3 separate regions of the Homo sapiens genome follow, and regions 2 and 3 are each linked to region 1. Evidence: fine-mapped expression QTL. A gene starts in region 1. Each other region holds a variant in brackets. All regions are shown on one strand. Distances are between the middles of the regions. Region 1 holds the start of NNT (nicotinamide nucleotide transhydrogenase). Region 2 overlaps NNT-AS1 (NNT antisense RNA 1). Region 3 has its middle 150 kb from the start of NNT-AS1.

The links.
Region 2: its variant is fine-mapped to the expression of NNT in whole blood (INTERVAL, PIP 0.92).
Region 3: its variant is fine-mapped to the expression of NNT in whole blood (INTERVAL, PIP 0.95).

What each region holds. Positions count from the first base shown.
Region 1 is chr5:43,600,441-43,605,440 of GRCh38, reverse strand. It overlaps NNT (nicotinamide nucleotide transhydrogenase), which reads right to left and starts at 2,261. Exons shown (of 22, transcript NM_182977.3): 1 at 2,147-2,261. NNT-AS1 (NNT antisense RNA 1) reads left to right here and starts at 2,211. Exons shown (of 3, transcript NR_073113.1): 1 at 2,211-2,663. RefSeq lists silencers at 2,001-2,220, 2,341-2,430, 2,694-2,913, a cis regulatory region at 4,152 and an enhancer at 4,068-4,237.
Region 2 is chr5:43,573,663-43,581,413 of GRCh38, reverse strand. NNT-AS1 (NNT antisense RNA 1) reads left to right here. Exons shown (of 3, transcript NR_073113.1): 3 at 5,479-7,751. Among named protein-coding and RNA genes, the nearest start is that of PAIP1, 20 kb to the right of the region's middle. RefSeq lists an enhancer at 176-922. The variant T/C (reference allele first, on the strand shown) is at 4,197.
Region 3 is chr5:43,750,054-43,757,804 of GRCh38, reverse strand. No RefSeq gene overlaps it. Among named protein-coding and RNA genes, the nearest start is that of NNT-AS1, 150 kb to the right of the region's middle. The variant A/G (reference allele first, on the strand shown) is at 4,427.

The DNA.
Region 1 (5,000 bases):
GGGTTCACGCCATTCTCCTGCCTCAGCCTCCCGAGTAGCTGGGACTACAGGCGCCCGCCACCGCGCCCGGCTAATTTTTTGTATTTTTAGTAGAGACGGGGTTTCACCTTGTTAGCCAGGATGGTCTCGATCTCCTGACCTCATGATCCACCCGCCTCGGCCTCCCAAAGTGCTGGGATTACAGGCGTGAGCCACCGCGCCCGGCCCAAAAGCACAACTTTTTAAGCATTGCTTTCATATGTATGTTTAATGTAACTTATATGGGTTATTTCCCCTATTAGATATTAAAATCCTTGAGGGAAAGCACCCAACCTAAAGAGGGAGGATACCACAGATATTTAAGAGAGTCAGCTCTGGATCTGCGGATTGGAAGCCCCACTCTGCAACTTATTGGCTGTGTGACCTTGGGAAGTCACTTAACTTCCCTGTACTTAATTTCCTCATCTTTAAAATGGGGAATAATAGCACCCACCCAGGGTGGTGGCTCACGCCTATAATGCCATCTCTTTGGGAGGCTAGTGGGGAGGACTGCTTGAGGCCAAGAATTCAAGACTAGCCTGGCCAACACAGTGAGACCCCCATTGCTAAAAAAAAAAAATTAATTAGCAGGGCATGGTGGTGCAAGCCTGAAGTCCCAGCTACTTGGGAGTCTGAGGTGGGAGAATCACTTGAGCCCAGGAGTTCCAGGCTGCAGTAAGCCGTGATTGTGCCACTGTACTCCAGCTTGGACAACAGAGCGAGACTTGAAAAAATAAAATAACAGCACCTACCTCTCAGGGTTGTTGCCAGGACTGAGAATATCCTTATCAGCTGTTATATTCACTTTGGTATTACTCTCCCCCAGTGCTTTGCACAACACAGAGGAAGTCAGTATTTTTGACTGAATGAATAGGGCTAGGTGACCTTAAGCCTAAGTACCTATTGAGCACATTTTCCAAGGATTTTCGGAAAATTTCCTTTGAAAAGGAAATGTTTGTGTAGCCTTGTGGAAAACTGATTCTATCACCAAGGTAAGCAGCCTAAGCGCACCTGCTGGAAAGAAGGCAATCCTAAACTGTCTGTTAATAAAAAGTCAAGGTTTACAAATAAAAGGGGTGCAATGAAGAAAAGGGGCACACTTTAAATAAGAAGAGTAGGTAGGCACCTAAGCCCCACGCGCTTCTCCGAATAAGTCTGTCCTACAAGACTCCTGACAAACAGACCACCTAAGGACTGGCCGGCGCCACAGGGTGAATAAAGGACACCGGCAACCATAAACAAGTCACGCTTTTAAAAGCGAGACATACCAGCAAGGACACAATACCCTACTGAGCCAGCTTCGGCTGGCAGGCGCCGTGACCTCACCCAAAGCCACTGGTGTCACGGCTACTGCCACCGGTGCCGTCCCTTGCTCGGCAACTAACTGCCACCCGCTGGCATCTGCACGAGACCGCTATTTATAACCTCCCTAGGAAGCCGATTGGCCACGGCTGCAAATAGTCATTCCGGCTGTTGAGTTTGAACTAGCTCTGCCCAGGTCGCCCTCTCCGCTGTCTCTTCCTCCTCACCAGCCTAGGCCCCAGAAACTTGTACCCACCACCGCCAGACCGCCCCAACTCACACTCACAATTTGTGCTCGCAATCTCCTATGTCCCCAGCCGGACACCCTCTCCGAACTCCCTCAAGGGTCAAGCATACCTCAAGGGCATCCAGCTGCCACCTCTCTGGATGAACCGCCCATCGAAAGTCCTCTATGACCTCCCTCTCCACCACCCCCGATCTTGAGGGCCGAAATGACCCCGTACGACTCTCGCTGTCCCCCAAAGCTGCAAATATCTGCACCTGCACAGCTGCCGCCTCATTCCCTGCCCTCTTCGGGGACCCAGTTCCCAAATCCACCAGCCCACTCCCTTCGACATCGCCCCAGCAGGAGACGAGAAAGGGACACCAAGAGGCACGGTGCTTCTTCCCCACCTAAGCCTGCGGCCTGCGGACACCCCAATGCACCCTGCGCCCGGGACACCGCCGACCCCGCCCCGCTTTGCTCTTTGACAGGTCTCTCTCCCGGCGAGGGCCGTGGTCTTCAGGAAAGGCCCGAGCCCCTTTCCCAGCTGCGCCCTAGGCGCGCGCCCCGGCTGCCCGCACCCGCCAGTGCCGTCGCGCTCACCTGGGCCGGGAGGCTGACAGCCTTGGGCTGTGCCCTGAGGGCCGCGAGAGGACGTCGCGCTGGCAGACCCGGGCTTGGGCCCCGCGGCGCTGCGCCTCCAACCCGGAAGAACAGCCCCAACTCCGCGGCGGCGGGCGGCCACGTGACTGCAGCTCCGCTCCCACCTCGGCCCGCGCCCCTTCCCCGCCCCAGCTTTCTTCCCGCCAGGCCCCCTCCACCCGATCGCCGCGCGCTCTCCGAACCAAAAGGCGACCTCACGAAATGCCCCTTTGAGCTCAAAGGCTAGTTACCCCCAGGGGCCCTTCCACTCTCGGGGACAGGCGAAACCTCTTTGTCTCTGCCTCGGCCTGCGGCCCCCAGCCCAGCCTCCGCGCTTTCCCTCCGCCAGTCCTTGTCAATCAAACCTGGTGCCAAACGCGGCAGCTGAAGTTTTCAGGGACACATTTGCTTCTCCCCTTGAAGAACCAGTTACAAAGCGTGATGTCCTCTCTGGGGTCCCATCAGAACAAAGAAACAGGTAATATAACTCCACTCCGGGTACCTGCCTTTCCTCCAGCTCGCTAGGAAAAATCAGAACTTCTGTAACAGAGAGGACCCAAGGGAAAGGGGCAGGCGGAGAGGGGTTGGTGAAGGGCGGGAATGGGGGGCGTTGATTTTCCATTCTGGCAGGAGAGGTGGAGTTAAATTCCTCAGAAACGATGTCCAGGCTTGAAAAGTAACACACATCTGCGTGCTTGTCTTCCAACATCAGAGCCAGCCTAGAGGAAGCTGGCTAGTGTCACTGCTAGTACGAATATCCCCGAGGCTGGAAAGCATCTGGGTGGAGGTTGTGAGCTTTCCAGACCAGGCCTCGGCTGTTTTTCTAAAACTATTAACCGTAATGACCTAGTCGTTCTTTTCACACAGTTCTGTTACTTATTCTGCAGGTGTATTCTGACTAAAAGTGGGAGGAATAAAAAATAGAGTGTAAAATGGTTCACTTGCCCAAAACTTAATCATCATGAAGTGTCAGTAACGTCATTTATTTCTATTAATTGAAATTTTGATACAAGAAAAATAATTATGAATCTAAAAGGTATAAGCAGAACAGGTATTCCATAACTTTAAAAAGAAATGAGCCGCAGGGAAACCCTTAGTTTGAGAACTTGTCTTGTGATTAACCTACACAGAAGGTCATTCAACTAATGGATTCCCACTGCAGTCCAAACTCACAGACAGGAAATGACACAGCCCCATGTTTTAAAATAATAATGAGCCGTGGTAAGTGTGACCATAGGGACGGTTTCCAGATACTGAAGGTACAATGAAGTGAGATTAGTAATGATCCCACTTAGTAAGGATTTTAAACTAAGTTATTGATTTAAAACTTTTTGTAGGGGTCAGGAGTTGCTGCTTTGTCTTTTAGGGATTAATAATTCGTGGTTCCCAACTGGGGACAATTTAGTTCCGAGGGATATTTGGCAATGTCTAGAGACATTTTGGTTGTCACAATTGGAGAGGGGACCTATCTAATGGGTTGGGGCCAGGGATATTACTGAACACCTCACACTACACAGCCCCTCACGACGAAGCATTATCCAGCCCCAAATGTCAATAGTGCTGAGGCTGAAAAATCCTGGCTTAAATTAATGCTCAGTACATTATTTAATTTTGACTTGCTTATAAATTTATATCACATGAAAACAAACTCAAAGATAACATACTGTTTTTCACTTTTGAAAATCATGAATGTTAGGCATATGATAATTTTAATAACAAGCATATGATTATTTTATTCCGCTTACTTGTACAACATAATTTGGGTGCCATTTCTTCAGGAGAAAACATTTGTCATTTGGAATGCTCTGTTTCAGTCCTTAAGCTTCTACGTATAATTACAGCATATTATTCATAAACGGAGTCCCCAATGAAAATAGGATTAAGTTCCAAAAGTTTGCTTTTAAGTTAGTTGCTTCTAAGTCTTAGACACTGTCTTGAATAAAATTTTTGTAGAGATTTGATATTCCCTATTAAGTTTTAAGGGCCTTTCCCACTCTGACTTCTACTCTTTCCTCCCTGACTAATTTGACCTGCAAACTCTCATCTTAAAATAGTACCTCTCACATATGTGTAAGTTTTCATTACAGATTGTTCTATTATTGAATAATTTTTAAAATATTTTAAAATTAAAATAAACATCAAAATTTAAACCATTTGAAGTTTAGGAGTTTTTGTAGTCACAAATGCTTAAAAATAGTTTTTAATAATTAGAGTTCTAATCTATCAGAAGCAAAAAGGATGAAACATTTACAAGACTATAATATAACATTTGGATCTGCTTTAAAGCCTAAAAACCAGAGAGGTGCCCAGTAGCCAAAAATCAAAACATAGGCTGAACCTGAGAAGACATGTAATCAAAAACTGACCTCTAGTGATGGCTTGTTACCAAAACCCACCATCTAGGTAAAATCAGGCTACAGAAAAGGTAGCTTTAATGTCTTTTCATTGTGGTTATTATGTTACATGGTTATTGGCAATTTATTGTCTCAGCTTCCCTTTTATAAATAATTATTAGTAAAGTGAACAGCCCCAGAGAGATGGGATTCTTAGATTTCAGTGTGTCTAACAATGCAGACACTCGACAGGTTTTAAGGGAACCATCACTAACCTTAATCTTAGCCCTCTTCTCCCAGGCTGACCAATCAAGAGTGTTTGATTTTAGGAAATAAATGTTAACTGACTAAATGAGCTGATGCTAATCAACATTAACTGGAAGAAAAAAGAGAACTGATATTAAAGAGCCAGCACAAAGTTCAACAATTGGCATTTGTTTAAGCTACATAAGTAAAACCAGTTTGCATTTGAAATTTCTGTG
Region 2 (7,751 bases), 25 kb after region 1:
CTAACACAAAGTGAAAATCATAACTGAAGGGGTGGGTTGCCCCTCCACACCTGTGGGTGTTTCTCGTTAGGTGGAACGAGAGACTTGGAAAAGAAAAAGACACAGAGACGAAGTATAGAGAAAGAAAATAAGGGGACCCAGGAAACCAGCGTTCAGCATATGGAGGATCCCGCCAGCCTCTGAGTTCTCTTAGTATTTATTCATCATTTTTGGGTGTTTCTCAGAGAGGGGGATGTGGCAGGGTCATAGGATAATAGTGGAGAGAAGGTCAGCAGATAAACACGTGAACAAAGGTCTCTGCATCATAGACAAGGTAACGAATTAAGTGCTGTGCTTTAGATATGCATACACATAAACATCTCAATGCCTTACAAAGCAGTATTGTTGCCCGCATGTCCCACCTCCAGCCCTAAGGCAGTTTTCCCCCATCTCAGTAGATGGAACATACAATCGGGTTTTATACCGAGACATTCCATTGCCCAGGGACGGGCAGGAGACAGATGGCTTCCTCTTGTCTCAACTGCAAAGAGGCATGCCTTCCTCTTATACTAATCCTCCTCAGCACAGACCCTTTACGGGTGTTGGGCTGGGGGATGGTCAGGTCTTTCCCTTCCCAGGAGGCCATATTTCAGACTATCACATGGGGAGAAACCTTGGACAATACCTGGCTTTCCTAGGCAGAGGTCCCTGGGTACTTGAGATTAGGGAGTGGTGAAGACTCTTAATGAGCATGCTGCCTTCAAGCATCTGTTTAACAAAGCACATCTTGCACCGCCCTTAATCCATTTAACCGTAAGTTGACACATCACATGTTTCAGAGAGCACGGGGTTGGGGGTAAGGTTATAGATTAACAGCATCTCAAGGCAAAAGAATTTGTCTTAGTACAGAACAAAATGGAGTCTCCTATGTCTACTTCTTTCTACACAGACACAGTAACAATCTGATCTCTCTTTCTTTTCCCCACAATAACATATGTGCTCAAACTGTCTGTAGGATTCACAATAAAGCTGCTCCACCTTTCAGTCCAGTAATTAAAATTCTGTGCTTTCACTACTGTGGTCTGGGTTTGATTACCAGTCAGGGAACCAGTACCTTTTGGTCTGATATTTGTGTGACTTTTGGCTTTTTGGGGTACCCATTTGTTGTTGATCATTTTCTGTTTCATGGACAGCTTTTGATTTTCTGCCTCCTTCCATCTGTGGGGGCGTATGAGGCTTTTGGGCCTTTGTGTGTAGACAGTCAGCTGAGAAGTTGAGACACTAGAGAATATGGCTGGACAGATGTGGGTTGAATCCCGTTTGCGGCTACTGAAACTTTATTTTCTTTGAACTGTCTTTCAGTGCATCTGCATCTTGTGAGGACTGCTTTTTACCTCTTTGGAGACACCTCATGTGTCCTTAGTTAAATTGTTGAGTCACTTGCAAAGTTACCTTTCATAAAAAAGTTTAAAAGTCAGGAATATTAGCTATTTGTCCTAGCCAAAATCCAATAATAAAAGATCTGAAAATATATTTTTAAAAAGCTCTATGATCAGAAGTCAGCTTAATTAGAAGCTAATATTCAACATATATGTTGAATATATCGTTATATACATAAATATATAATATACATATATTTATATTATATTATATTATAACTATATTAAATATATAGGTATATATTTAATATAGTTATATATTTATATAAATATATACCTATATATTTATAGAAATATATTTAATTTATATTTAATTTATATTATATTATATTATAAATATATTGTTATATATTTATATATTATATTTTATTTATATATTATATAAATGTATAATATTATGTTATATATTATATATAACATATAATATATAAATATTATAAAATATATAATAGATAAAATATTTTTATATTATATATTATAATATATAAATGTATTATTACAATATATAAATATATGTGTATATAAATATGCAAAAATATATTTATATAAATATATGTATATAAATATGCAAAAATATATTTATATAAATATATATATTTAAAGGCCTTTCTGCCTTTTTTCTTTGGGATCCTATTTCTGAGGATTTTTCTAGTTTACTGAAACTTCTTTTAATTGTATATTTGGTCTTTTTGTATGCTTCATTTCTTGTGGTATGATTTTTGTTAAGAAAAGCGTAAAACTTCATTGGCTTTTTGTTCCTCCTTTCTCTTTGCTGTCTTGAATATCACATAAAAGGATCTGTGGGAACATCTAAAGACCCTGTAAGAAACATAGAAAACCCTCTCCCTCCCCCTCCCCCTCCCCCTCCCCCTCTCCCGAGCCGAAGCTGGACTGTACTGCTGCCATCTCGGCTCACTGCAACCTCCCTGCCTGATTCTCCTGCCTCAGCCTGCCCAGTGCCTGCAATTGCAGGCGCGCGACGCCACGCCTCACTGGTTTTCGTATTTTTTTGGTGGAGACGGGGTTTCGCTGTGTTGGCCGGGCTGGTCTCCAGCTCCTAGCCACGAGTGATCCGCCAGCCTCGGCCTCCCGGGGTGCCGGGATTGCAGACGGAGTCTGGTTCACTCAGTGCTCAATGGTGCCCAGGCTGGAGTGCAGTGGCGTGATCTCGGCTCGCTACAACCTCCACCTCCCAGCCGCCTGCCTTGGCCTCCCAAAGTGCCGAGATTGCAGCCTCTGCCCGGCCGCCACCCCGTCTGGGAAGTGAGGAGCGTCTCTGCCTGGCCGCCCATCGCCTGGGACGTGAGGAGCCCCTCTGCCTGGCTGCCCAGTCTGGAAAGTGAGGAGCATCTCTGCCCGGCCGCCATCCCATCTAGGAAGTGACGAGCGCCTCTTCCCGGTCGCCATCCCATCTAGGAAGTGAGGAGCGTCTCTGCCCGGCCGCCCATTGTCTGAGATGTGGGGAGAGCCTCTGCCCCGCCGCCCCGCCTGGGATGTGAGGAGCGCCTCTACCCGGCCGCGACCCTGTCTGGGAGGTGAGGAGCGTCTCTGCCCGGCCGCCCCGTCTGAGAAGTGAGGAGACCCTCCGCCTGGCAACCGCCCGTCTGAGAAGTGAGGAGCCCCTCCGCCCGGCAGTCACCCCGTCTGGGAAGTGAGGAGCGTCTCCGCCCAGCAGCCACCCCGTCCGGGAGGGAGGTGGGGGTCAGCCCCCGCCAGGCCAGCTGCCCCGTCCGGGAGGGAGGTGGGGGGGTCAGCCCCCCGCCCGGCCAGCCGCCCCGTCCGGGAGGTGAGGGGCGCCTCTGCCCAGCCGCCCCTACTGGGAAGTGAGGAGCCCCTCTGCCCGGCCACCACCCCGTCTGGGAGGTGTACCCAACAGCTCATTGAGAACGGGCCATGATGACAATGGCGGTTTTGTGGAATAGAAAGGGGGGAAAGGTGAGGAAAAGATTGAGAAATCGGATGGTTGCTGTGTCTGCGTAGAAAGAGGTAGACATGGGAGACTTTTCATTTTGTTCTGTACTAAGAAAAATTCTTATCCTGTTGATCTGTGACCTTACCCCCAACCCTGTGCTCTCTGAATCATGTGCTGTGTCCACTCAGGGTTAAATGGATTAAGGGCGGTGCAAGATGTGCTTTGTTAAACAGATGCTTGAAGGCAGCATGCTCGTTAAGAGTCATCACCACTCCCTAATCTCAAGTACCCAGGGACACAAACACTGCGGAAGGCCGCAGGGTCCTCTGCCTAGGAAAACCAGAGACCTTTGTTCACTTGTTTATCTGCTGACCTTCCCTCCACTATTGTCCTATGACCCTGCCAAATCCCCCTCTGCGAGAAACACCCAAGAATAATCAATAAAAATAAATAAATAAATAAATAAATAAAATAATAAATAAATAAAAAGAAACATAGAAAAGCTACCACTCACCCACTTTATGGGAATGATCTTCTGTCTTCCTGTGGAGTCTGAAGAGTCATGGGCAAGTTCTTATCAGGTCTAAAGCTCCACTCTCCTTTGCATTGCATTACCTGGTCTCTTTGGCTTTGGGGGTTCAAGGAATTACTTTGACCTATTAGAGAATTTGACCTTGTGTATGCAATGGCTGGTGGGTCACTGGTGAGGGCTGCAGTTTTGGAGGTAGCTGACAGTGGTTGCAATTAATAGTTATTACTGTATGTAGGCTACTTGTTGCTTTGCTCTATTCTATAAAAAAGACATAGTTGAATACATGGAGACTGTGGGAATACTCACCACCAAGGAATAACTATCCCATGGTGGA[T/C]GGGCTGATCACAGAATGGGCTGATTGATATGGGTCTCCCACCCACTAATACCTGACACACAATCTGTCACTCTCACTAATGCCTCACACACCCCCACCAGCCTCAGGGTGACATCTTTGTAGTGAGGTGTACTCTGGAAACACTGTGCAGCCCAGTCCTTTGGTGTTTCCCTCTTTTGTGGGGGACCCAGGGTTCAGTGTAAAAGTAGAATCCTTGATTTTTAAAAATCTAGATGCTCTGTCTTCCAGCTGTGCCTACTTTTTACATATACAAATATTAGGCCCTAAAAACTGCAAATGCTTTGTTTGCCCTGTTCCTTAATGGGCTCTGCCCAGAACTCAGTGGTCTAAGTAGAAAACAGATACTAAATTAGAAGCCACCTATATGACTAGATTGGTCTCCAAAATATGACTTTCTGACATTTAGGTGTTTGTTTTTGTTTTTGGTAGGGTTTTCTGTATTTTTTGTTTCGTTTTGTTTTTGTTTTTGTTTTTTGAGACAGTGTATTAGGCCATTCTTGAGTTACTATAAAGAAATTCCTGAGACTGGGTAATTTATAAGAGGTTTAGTTGGTTCACAGTGCTGCAGGCTGTACAAGAGGCATAGTGCCAGCATTTGCTTCTGGAGAGTCCTTAGGAAGCTTACAATCATGGTGAAAGGAAAAGGGGGAGGAGGCACATCTCACAGCAAAAGCAGGAATAAGAGAAAGAGAGTATGGGGGGAGGTGCCACATACTTTAAAATGACCAGATCTTGCAAAAACTCACTTGGCACCAAGGGGACAGCCCTAGCCATTCATGAGGGACCTGCCCCCATGATCCAAATACCTCCCACCAGTTATTACATTTCAACATGAGATTTGGGTGGGGACAAATATCCAAACCATATCAGACTGGGTCTTAATCTGTTGTCCAGGCTGGAATGCAGTCACACAATCACAGCTCACTGCAGCCTCAACTTCCTGGGCTCAAGCAATGTCCTCATCCTCCTACCTCAGCCTCTCAAGTAGCTGCTATTACAGGCACACGCCACCATGCCTGGCTAATTTTGTTGCTTTTGTAGAGACAAAGTTATATACCATGTTGCCCGGGCTTAGCTAGTTATTTTTAAAAGGCTTCTGAATTTCCTCTCTGCTCATTTGTATCTTTCATTGTAACATCCTATGTGAATTTCTATAATTTTGTGTCACATTGGTGTGTTTGTCTGTTTTGTGTTGCTATAAAGGAATACCTGAGGCTTGGTGATTTATAAAGAAAAGTTTATTTGGCTCACTATTCTGCAGGCTGTACAAGAAGCATGATGCCAGCATCTGCTTCTGGTGACAACCTCAAGAAGTTTACAATTGGCCGCGTGCGGTGGCTCATGCCTGTAATGCCAGCACTTCGGGAGGCGGAGACAGATGGATCATTTGAGGTCAGGAGTTCGAGACCAGGCTGGCCAACATGGTGAAACCCCATCTCTACTAAAAATACAAAAATTAGCTGGGCATGGTGGCATGTGTCTGGAATCCCTGCTACTCAGGAGGCTGAGGCAAGAGGATCACTTGGAACTTGGGAGGCAGAGGTTGCTGTGAGCTGAGATCACACCACTGTACTCCAGCCTGGGCAACAGAGTGATACTCTATCTCAAAAAAAAAAGAAAGAAAGAAAGAAAAGAAAAAGAAGCTTACAATCATGGTGGAAGGCGAAGAGGAGGAGCAGGCATATCACATGGCCAAAAAGGGAGCAAGAGAAAGGTGAGAAAGACACTAGACTCTTTTTAAAACCAGCTCTCACATGAGCTAATGGAATAAGAACTCACTCATTACCACAAGGACAGAACCCAGCCATTCATGAGGGACCTGCCACCATGACCCAAAAACCTCCTACTTGACCCAACCTCCAACACTGGGGATAACATTTCAACATGAGATTTGAAGAGGACAAATACTCAAACTATATCACTTGTTGTCCATTTTTAATCTTTCTCTAACATACCCTAACTTCTTCTTGAAAATGCTTAATTTTCTCTGTTTTGAGATGTAAATTTGCTATCCTGTTTTTCTTAAAACTTGGTAAGATCTTCAGCCATGAAGGACAGACAAACTGTAACCTTTCCATTTACAAAGCTGCATTTGAATTCAACTGTCCTTTTAAACTAAGGAGTTTTACTGGTCTCGTGGCTAAAATTTTAAAGATGTAGGCCAGGTGCAGTGGCTCATGCCTGTAATCCTATCACTTTTGGAGACCAAGGCGGGGATGGATCACCTGAGGTCAGGAGTTCAAGACCAGCCTGGCCAACATGATGAAACTCCATCTCTACTAAAAATACAAAAATTAGTCAGGCATGGTGGCACACACCTGTAATCCCAGCTACTCGGGAGGCTGAGGCAAGAGAATGGCTTGAACCCGGGCGACGGAAGTTGCAGTGAGGCGAGATTGCACCATTGCACTCCAGCCTGGGCAATAAGAGTGAAACTCTGTCTCAAAAAAAGAAAAAATGATATAAAGTATTTATTTGTGTTTATATTTTATGGATACGTGTCTATGTTTATAGATTGCCTGTATGGTACCAACTTGACATAAATAAATTAGTACTCATAAATTAAGTAAATAAGCCCAAACGCTTTTCAAGTTCACAGGGCATTAGTAATCTGTGGTAAATGAAGATAGTTTAAAATTTGGGGTAAAATAAAATAGAAACATTTTCTGAATTTAATTTAGATATTTTTCTGGGTCTATTTGTTAGACAGGTTTACACTATCTCTGCTATTTTTTTAAGGACCTAAAACTGAATGGACATAGAAAATTGAGGAAAGAAATAAAACCGTAACAATTATAAGAGGTTATAAAAGGTTCATGGAACCTTTTTATGTTTTTTCTTGTGCAGTCAAAACCAATTGCAGGCTGGATGCAGTAGCTCACACTTGTAATCCCAGCACTTTGGGAGGCTGAGATGGGCAGATCACTTGAGCTCAGGAGTTTGAGACCATCCTGGGCAACATAGTGAAACTCTCTCACTACCAAAGTACAAAAGGAATTAGCTGGGCATGATGGTACACACTTGTAGTCCCAGCTACTTGGGGGACTGAGATGGGAAAATTGCTTGAGCCCGGGAGTCAAAGGTTGCAGTAAGCCAAGATTGCACCACTACACTCCAGCCTGGGTGACAAAGTGAGACCCTGTCTCAAAAAAAAACAAAAAAAGGAAAAGAAAACAATTGCAATTGGATTGATCTGTTTATAAGGCTTTATTAAAATTAGCTTTAGCATTTATAATACACTGGCACAAAGTTAGAATTTGGATTTCTCTTTTGAACAAGATTTTTGTATACATTAATAAGAAATAGTAAAAGATTTTTGTTTACCTTTTGAGTAAACTGCAAAAAATATTAGTAATAAGAGGAGAGAATTTCCCTAATGCTGTTTTTATTATGTCTTTTGATTGTTTGGAAAACTGAATCTCCCCTCTGTCAAAGAGTAAAATTTTTGCTTTTTGAAATTTTTGAATTATCAGTTTGGCTAAATGAATAACTATTATCTTACAGTGACCTGTAATCTTATTTTGATCAAGTGTT
Region 3 (7,751 bases), 150 kb before region 1:
AAGAAGAGCTAACCATCCTAAATATATATGCACCCAATACAGCAGCACCCAGATTCATAAAGCAAGTGCTTAGAGACCTACAAAGAAACTTAGACTCCCACACAATAATACTGGGAGACTTTAATACCCCACTGATAATATTACACATTTCATCAAGACAGAAAATTAACAGATATTTAGGACCTGAACTGATCAAGTGCACCTGATAGATATCTACAGAACTCTTGACCCAAATTCAAAGAATATACATTCTTCTCACCACCACATGGCACTTACTCTAAAATTGATCACATAATCAGAAATAAAACACTCATCAAATGCAAAGGAACTGAAATCATAACAACAGTGTCTCAGATCACCATGCAATCAAACTAGAACTCAAGATTGAGAAATTCACTGAAAACCACACAATTACAAGGAAATTGAACAACTTGTCCCTGAATGACTCTTGGGTAAACAATGAAATTAAGGCAGAAATCAAGAAGTTATTTGAAACTAATGAGAACAAAGAGAGAACATACCAGAATCTCCGTCACAGCTAAAACAGTGTTAAGAGGGAAATTCATAGCACTAAATGCCCACATCAAAAAGCTGGAAAAATCTCATATGTACCCTAAAACTTAAAGTATAATAACAATAAAATTTTTTTAAAATGCTGGAAAAATCTCAAGTTAACAAGCTAGCATCACAACTAAAAGAACTAGAGAACCAAGAGCAAACAAACCCCAAAGTCAGCAGAAGACAGAAAATAACCAAGATCAGAGCAGAATTGAAGGAAACAGAGACATTAAAAACCCTTCAAAAAAATCAATGAATCCAGGAGCTGTTTTTTTTTAATTAATAAAGTAAATAGACTGCTAGCTAGACTATTAAAAAAGAAAAGAGAGAAGAATCCATTAAACACAATCAGCAATTATAAAGGGCATGTCACCACTGACCACACAGAAATACAATCATCAGAGAACACTATAAACACCTCTATGCACATAAACTAGAAAATCTAGAAGTTAATAAATTCCTGGACACATACACCTCCCAAGACTGAACCAGGAAGAAACTGAATCCCTGAACACAACAATTATGAGTTCTGAAGTAGTAATATATAGTCTACCAACCAAAATAAGCCCAGGACCAGACAAATTCACAGCTGAATTCTACCAGAGGTACAAAGAAGAACTAGTACCATTTCTAATGAAACTATTTCAAAAAATTGAAAGGGAGAGACTCCCAACTAACTCAATCTATGAGGCCAGCATATTCTGATACCAAAATCTGGCAGAGACACAACAAAAAAAAAAGAAAACTTCAGGCTAATCATCTTGATGAACTTCAATGCAAAACTCCTCAACAAAATACTTGCAAACTGAATCCAGCAACACATCAAAAAGCTTATCCACCATGATCCAGTTGACCTCATTCCCAGGATGCAAGGTTGGTTCAACATATGCAAATCAATAAATGTGATTCATCACATAAACAGAACTAACGACAAAAACCACATGATTATCTTCATAGATGCAGAAAAGGCTTTTGATAAAATTCAACATCCCTTCATGTTAAAAACTCTCAATAAACAGCTGGGCATGGTGGCTCATGCCTGTAATCCCAGCACTTTGGGAGGCCAAGGTGGGCAGATCACAAAGTCAGGAGTTTGAGAACAGGCTGGCCAATATGGTGAAACCCCATGTCTACTAAAAATACAAAAATTAGCCAGGCATGGTGGCAGGCACCTGTAGTGTCAGCTACTCAGGAGGCTGAGGCAGGAGAATGGCTTCAACCCAGGAGGCAGAGGTTACAGCTAGCTGAGATCATGCCACTGCAATCCAGCCTGGGTGACAGAGGGAGACTCTGTCTCAAATAAATAAATAAATAAACCCTCAATAAACTAGGTATTGAAGGAACATGCCTCAAAGTACTAAGAGACATATATGAAAAACTCACAGCCAATATCATACTGAATTGGCAAAACCTGGAAGCATTCCCCTTGAAAACCAGCACAAGACAAGGATGACCTCTTTCACCACTCCTATTCAACATAGTATTGCAAGTTCTGGCCACGGCAATCAGGAAAGAGAAAGAAATAAAGAGTATTCAAATAGAAAGAGAGGAAGTCAAATTATCTTTATTTGCAGATGACATGATCCTATAACTAGAAAATTCCATCATCTCAGCCCAAATGCTTCTTAAACTGATAAACAACTTCAGCAAAGTCTCAGGATATAAAATCGATGTGCAAAAACTGCTAGCATTCCTATAAATCAACAACAGGTAAGCAGAGAGCCAAATCATGAATGAACTCCCATTCACAATTGTTATAAAGAGAATAAAATACCTAGGAATAGAGGTAACAAGGGAAGTGAAGGACCTCTTCAAAGAGAAATACAGACCACTGCTCAAAGAAATTAGACAGGACACAAACAAATGGAGAAAATTCCAGCTCATGGATAGGGAGAATCAATATTGTGAAAATGGCCATACTCCCAAAAACAATTTATTAATTGTTAATAAATTAAATGCTATTCCCATTAAACAACCACTGACATTATTCACAGAATTTAAAAAAAGATTTTAAAATTCATATGGAGCCAAAAAAGGGTCCAAGCAGCCAAGATAATCCTAAGCAAAAAACAAAAAACAAAAACAAACCTGGAGGCATCACACTACCAGATTGCAACCTATACTACAAGACTACAGCAACCCAAACAGCATGGTGCTGTTATAAGAACAGACACATAGACCAATGGAACAGAACAGAGAACTCAGAAATAAGGCCACAAACCTACAACCATCTGATCTTCAACAAACTTGACAAAATCAGCAATGGGGAAAGGACTCCCCATTCAACAAATGGTGCTGGGAGTGCTGGCTAGCCATATCCAGGAAATTGGAACTGGACCCCTTCTTTACACCATATACAAAAATTAACTCAAAATAGATTAAAGCAATAGATTAAAGACTTAAATGTGAAACCCAAAACTATAAAAACCCTGGAAAAAATATAGAGAATACCATTCAGGACATAGGCACAGGTAAAGATTTCATGATGAAAATACAAAAAGGAATTGCAACAAAAGCAAAAATTGACAAATGGGATCTAATTAAACTAAAGAGCTTCTGCACAGCAAAAGAAACTATCATCAGTAGGACACAGCCAGATCTCATCTTGAATTGTAGTTCCCATAATCCCCACATGTCATGGGAGGGACCTGGTGGGAGGTAATTGAATCATGGGAGCAGGTTTTTCCCATGCTGTTCTTGTGATAGTAAATAAATCTCACAGGATCTGATGGTTTTATAAAGGGCAGTTCCCCTACCCATGCTCTCTTGTCTGCCACCATGTAAGATGTGCCTTTGTCCCTCCTTCACCTTCTGCCATGATTGCAGGGCCTCCCCACCCATTTTCAACAATGAGCCCCTTAAACCTGTTTTTCTTTATAAATTACCCAGTCTCAGGTATGTCTTTATTAGCATCATGAAAATGGACTAATACAGTAAATTGGTACCAGTAGAGTGGGGTGGTGCTGTAAGAATACCTAAAAATATGAAAGCAGCTTTGGAACTGGATAACAGACAGAGGTTGGAGCAGTGTGGGTGGAGTGCTCAGAAGAAAACACAGAAATGTGGGAAAGTCTGGAACTTCCTAGAGTTTGGATGGCTCAGAAGACAGGAAGATGTGAAAAAGTTTGGAACTTCCTAGAGACTTGTTGAATGGCTTTGACCAAAATGCTAATAGTAATATGAACAATAAAGTCCAGACTAAGGTAGCGGTCTCAGATGGAGATGAGGAACTTGTTGGGAAATGGAGTAAAGGTGACTCTTGTTACACTTTAGTAGCAAACAGACTGGTGAAATTTTGCCCCTGCCCTAGGATCTGTGGAGCTTTGAACTTGAGACTGATGATTTAGGCTATCTGGCAGAAGAAATTTCTAAGCAGCAAAGTGTTCTAGAGGAAACAAAATATAAAAGTTTGGAAAATTTGCAGCCTGACGATGCAATAGAAAACAAAAACCCATTTTCTGGGGAGAAATTCAAACGTGCTGCAGAAATTTGCATAAGTAACAAGGAGCCAAATGTTAATCACCAAGACAATGGTGAAAATGTCTCCAGGGCATGTCGGAGACCTTCCAGGCAGCCCATCCCATCACAGGCCTGGAGGCCTAAGAGGAAAAACTGATTTCACAGGCTGGGCCCAGGACTCCCCTGCTGTGTGCAGCTAGGGACTTGGTGCCCTGTGTCTCTGCCATTCCAGCCATGGCTAAAAGGGGCCAAGGTATGGCTCAGGCAGTGGCTTCAGTGGGTGCAAGCCTCAAGCCTTGGCAGCTTCCACGTGGTGTTGAGCCTTCAGGTACACAGAAGTCAATAATTGAGGCTTGGGAACCTCCACCTAAATTTCAGATGTGTGGAAACCCCTGGATATTCAGGCAGA[A/G]GTTTGCTGCAGGGGCAGGGCCCCCATGCAGAACCTCTGCCAGGGCAGTGAGGAAGGCAAATGTGAGGTTGGAGGTCCCACACAGAGTCCCTACTGGGGCGCCGCCTAGTGGAGCTGTGAGAAGAGGGCCACAGTCCTCCAGAACCCAGAATGTTAGATCAACCAACAGCTTGCACCATGCACCTGGAAAAGCCACAGACACTCAATGCCAGGCCATGAAAGCAGCCAGGACTGGGGCTCTAACCTGCAAAGCCACAGGGACAGAGCTGCCCAAGGATGTGGGAGCCCACCTCTTGCATCAGCATGACCCGGATGTGAGACATGGAGTCAAAGGAAATCATTTTGGAACTTTAAAGTTTAATGACTGTCCTATTGGATTTTGGAATTGCGTGGGATCTATAGACCCTTTGTTTTGACTGTTTTCTCCCATTTGGAATGGGTGTATTTACCAAATGCCTGTACCCTCATTGTATCTAGGAAGTAACTTACTTGTTTTTGATTTTACAGGCTCACAGGCAAAAGGGACTTGCCTCGTCTCAGATGAGACTTTGGACTATGGACTTTTGAGTTAATGCTGAAATGAGTTAAGACTTTGGGGGATGGTTGGGAAGGCATGATTGGTTTCAAAATGTAAGGACATGAGATTTGGGAGGGGCCAGGGACAGAATAATATGGTTTGGCTCTGTCCTCACCCAAATCTCATTTTGAATTGTAGTTCCCATAATCTCCACATGTTGTGGGAGGGGCCCAATGGGAAGTAATTGAATCATGGGAATGGGTTTTTCCCATGCTGTTCTCATGATAGGAAATAAGTCTCACAAGATCTGATGGTTTTATAAAGGGCAGTTGCCCTGCATATTCTCTCTTGCCTGCCACCATGTAAGATGTTGCTTTGCTCTTCCTTCACCTTCCACCATGATTGTGAGGTCTCATCAGCCGTGTGGAACTGTGAGTCCATTAAACTTCTTTTTCCTTATAGACCCAGTCTTGGATGTCTTTATTAGCAGCGTGAGAACAGACTAATACAGTCAGTGCAAACAGACAACCTACAGAATAGGAGAAAATTTTTGTAGATCTATCCATCTGACAAAGGCCTAATATCTAGAGTCTACAAGGAACTTAAACAAATCTATAAGCAAAACAAACAACCCCATTAAAAAGTGGGCAAAGGACATGAACAGACACTTTTCAAAAGAATACATACATGTGGCCAACAAACATATGAAAAGAAAAGCTTAACATCATTGATCATTAGAGAAATGCAAATCAAGACTGCAATGAGATACCATCTCATGCCGGTCAGAATGGTGATTATTAAAAAGTCAAAAAACTCAGGAGGCTGAGGCAGGAGAATGGCATGAACCCGGGAGGTGGAGCTTGCAGTGAGCCAAGATCACTCCACTGCACTCCAGCCTGGGCAACAGAGCGAGACTCTGTCTCAAAAAAGAAAAAAAGTCAAAAAACATAATACCAAATTGTTAAGAAAAGGAAAAACAGTCAAAAAACAACAGATGCTATCAAGGTTGTGGAGAAAAAGGAACACTTTTACACTGTTGGTAGGAGTGTACATTAATTCAACCATGTGGAAGACAGTGTGGTGACTCCTCAAAGACCTAAAGGCAGAAATACTATACAACCCAGCACTCCCATTACTGGGTATATACCCAAAGGAATATAAATCATTCTATTATAAAGATACATGCACACATATGTTCATTGCAGCACTCTTCACAATAGCAAAGATGTAGAATCAACCTTGGTGTCCATCAATAGTGGACTGGATAAAGAAAATGTGGTACATATACACTGTGGAATACTATGTAGCCATAAAAAGGAATGAGATCATGTCCTTTGTAGGGACATGGATCAAGCTGGAAGCTATTATCCTCAGCAGGAACAGAAAACCAAACACTTCATGTTCTCACTTATAAGTGGGAGCTGAATGATGAGAACACATGGACACATTAGGTGGAAGAAATAACACACACTGGGGCCTGTCAGGGGTAGTGTGTCAGGAAGGGAGAGCATCAGGAAGAATAGCTAATGGATGCTGGGCTTAATACCTTGGTGATGGGATGATCTTTGTAACAATCCACCATGGCACATGTTTCCCTATGTAACAAACCTGCACATAACGCACATGTACCCCTGAACTTAAAATAAGTTGAAACAAACAACAACAAAAAAAAACAGAGAGTGAGGCTGAGGGGTGGAGAGATTGGGGAGATGTCGGTCAAAGGAAACAAAATTTTGTTTAGACAGGAGAAATAAGTTCAAGAGATCTACTGTATATCATGGTGACTACAGTTAATAACAGTATACTATATATTTGAAAATTGCTAAGTGAGTAGATTTAAGCGTTCTCACCACAAAGAAATAAGTATGTGAGGTAATGCTTATGTAAAATAGCTTAGTCATTCCACATTGCATATACATATATATATAAACATGTTATACAACATATTTATAATATTTACTTATCAGATTTTACAAATAATTTTTTTAAAAAAATTAAAAATTAAAATAAGTACCTTGCAACTCTAAAGCAAATAAATTTAACCAACAAGTTGGTAGATTATCTGTACAGAGAATTATTTTTTTCAAGTGACTTTAAAAGACAATCATTTGTATATCCTTATTGGTGTATATTCTACAAGTGAAAACTGCAAGATAAAATCAAGCTGTTTTAAATAAATAAATAAACCTAATTGTACATAAAGTTGATGGAATAGCTTAAATGTAGTATCTGTATTGTACATCAGTGGTGGAATATATCCTAAGGACACAAAGAACCCCCCCAAAATCTTAAACTGCATTAAATGTCATGCCATTAGTAGTAGCAACATAATTGTTATTTTGAAATTACTATATAAGTATATTTTTTAAAACCTGAATACTATGTATATTCGGATAAAATAAATAATATATTAATATCATTAGGAATCATGATTCAGTGTAAAAGAAAAAAGATGCCCTTGTAAAATCAAAATGATTAAATAAAAGTCCTATAATCTTACATTTGAATATAAAATATCACAATAAAATAATTACTTTTCTCTTTCTAAAAAACAAATGTTTACTAATTAGCTCTGACCACTGTAAAAGCTTGGGAATAATAACAACTCAGTGGCAATAAGCACACCAAACACACAGATCTCTAAACACCACTTTTAAGTTGGGCAAGTAATGTACAAGATAAGTCTGAGAACCTATCATGCCAGAAATCAAGAAAGCTGTCAGAAACTACCAGGGTCATGCTAGAATAACATAGAAACCAACTCAAATTGACTCACTGGCTGAAGAGGACTCACAGAGCAAAGAAATT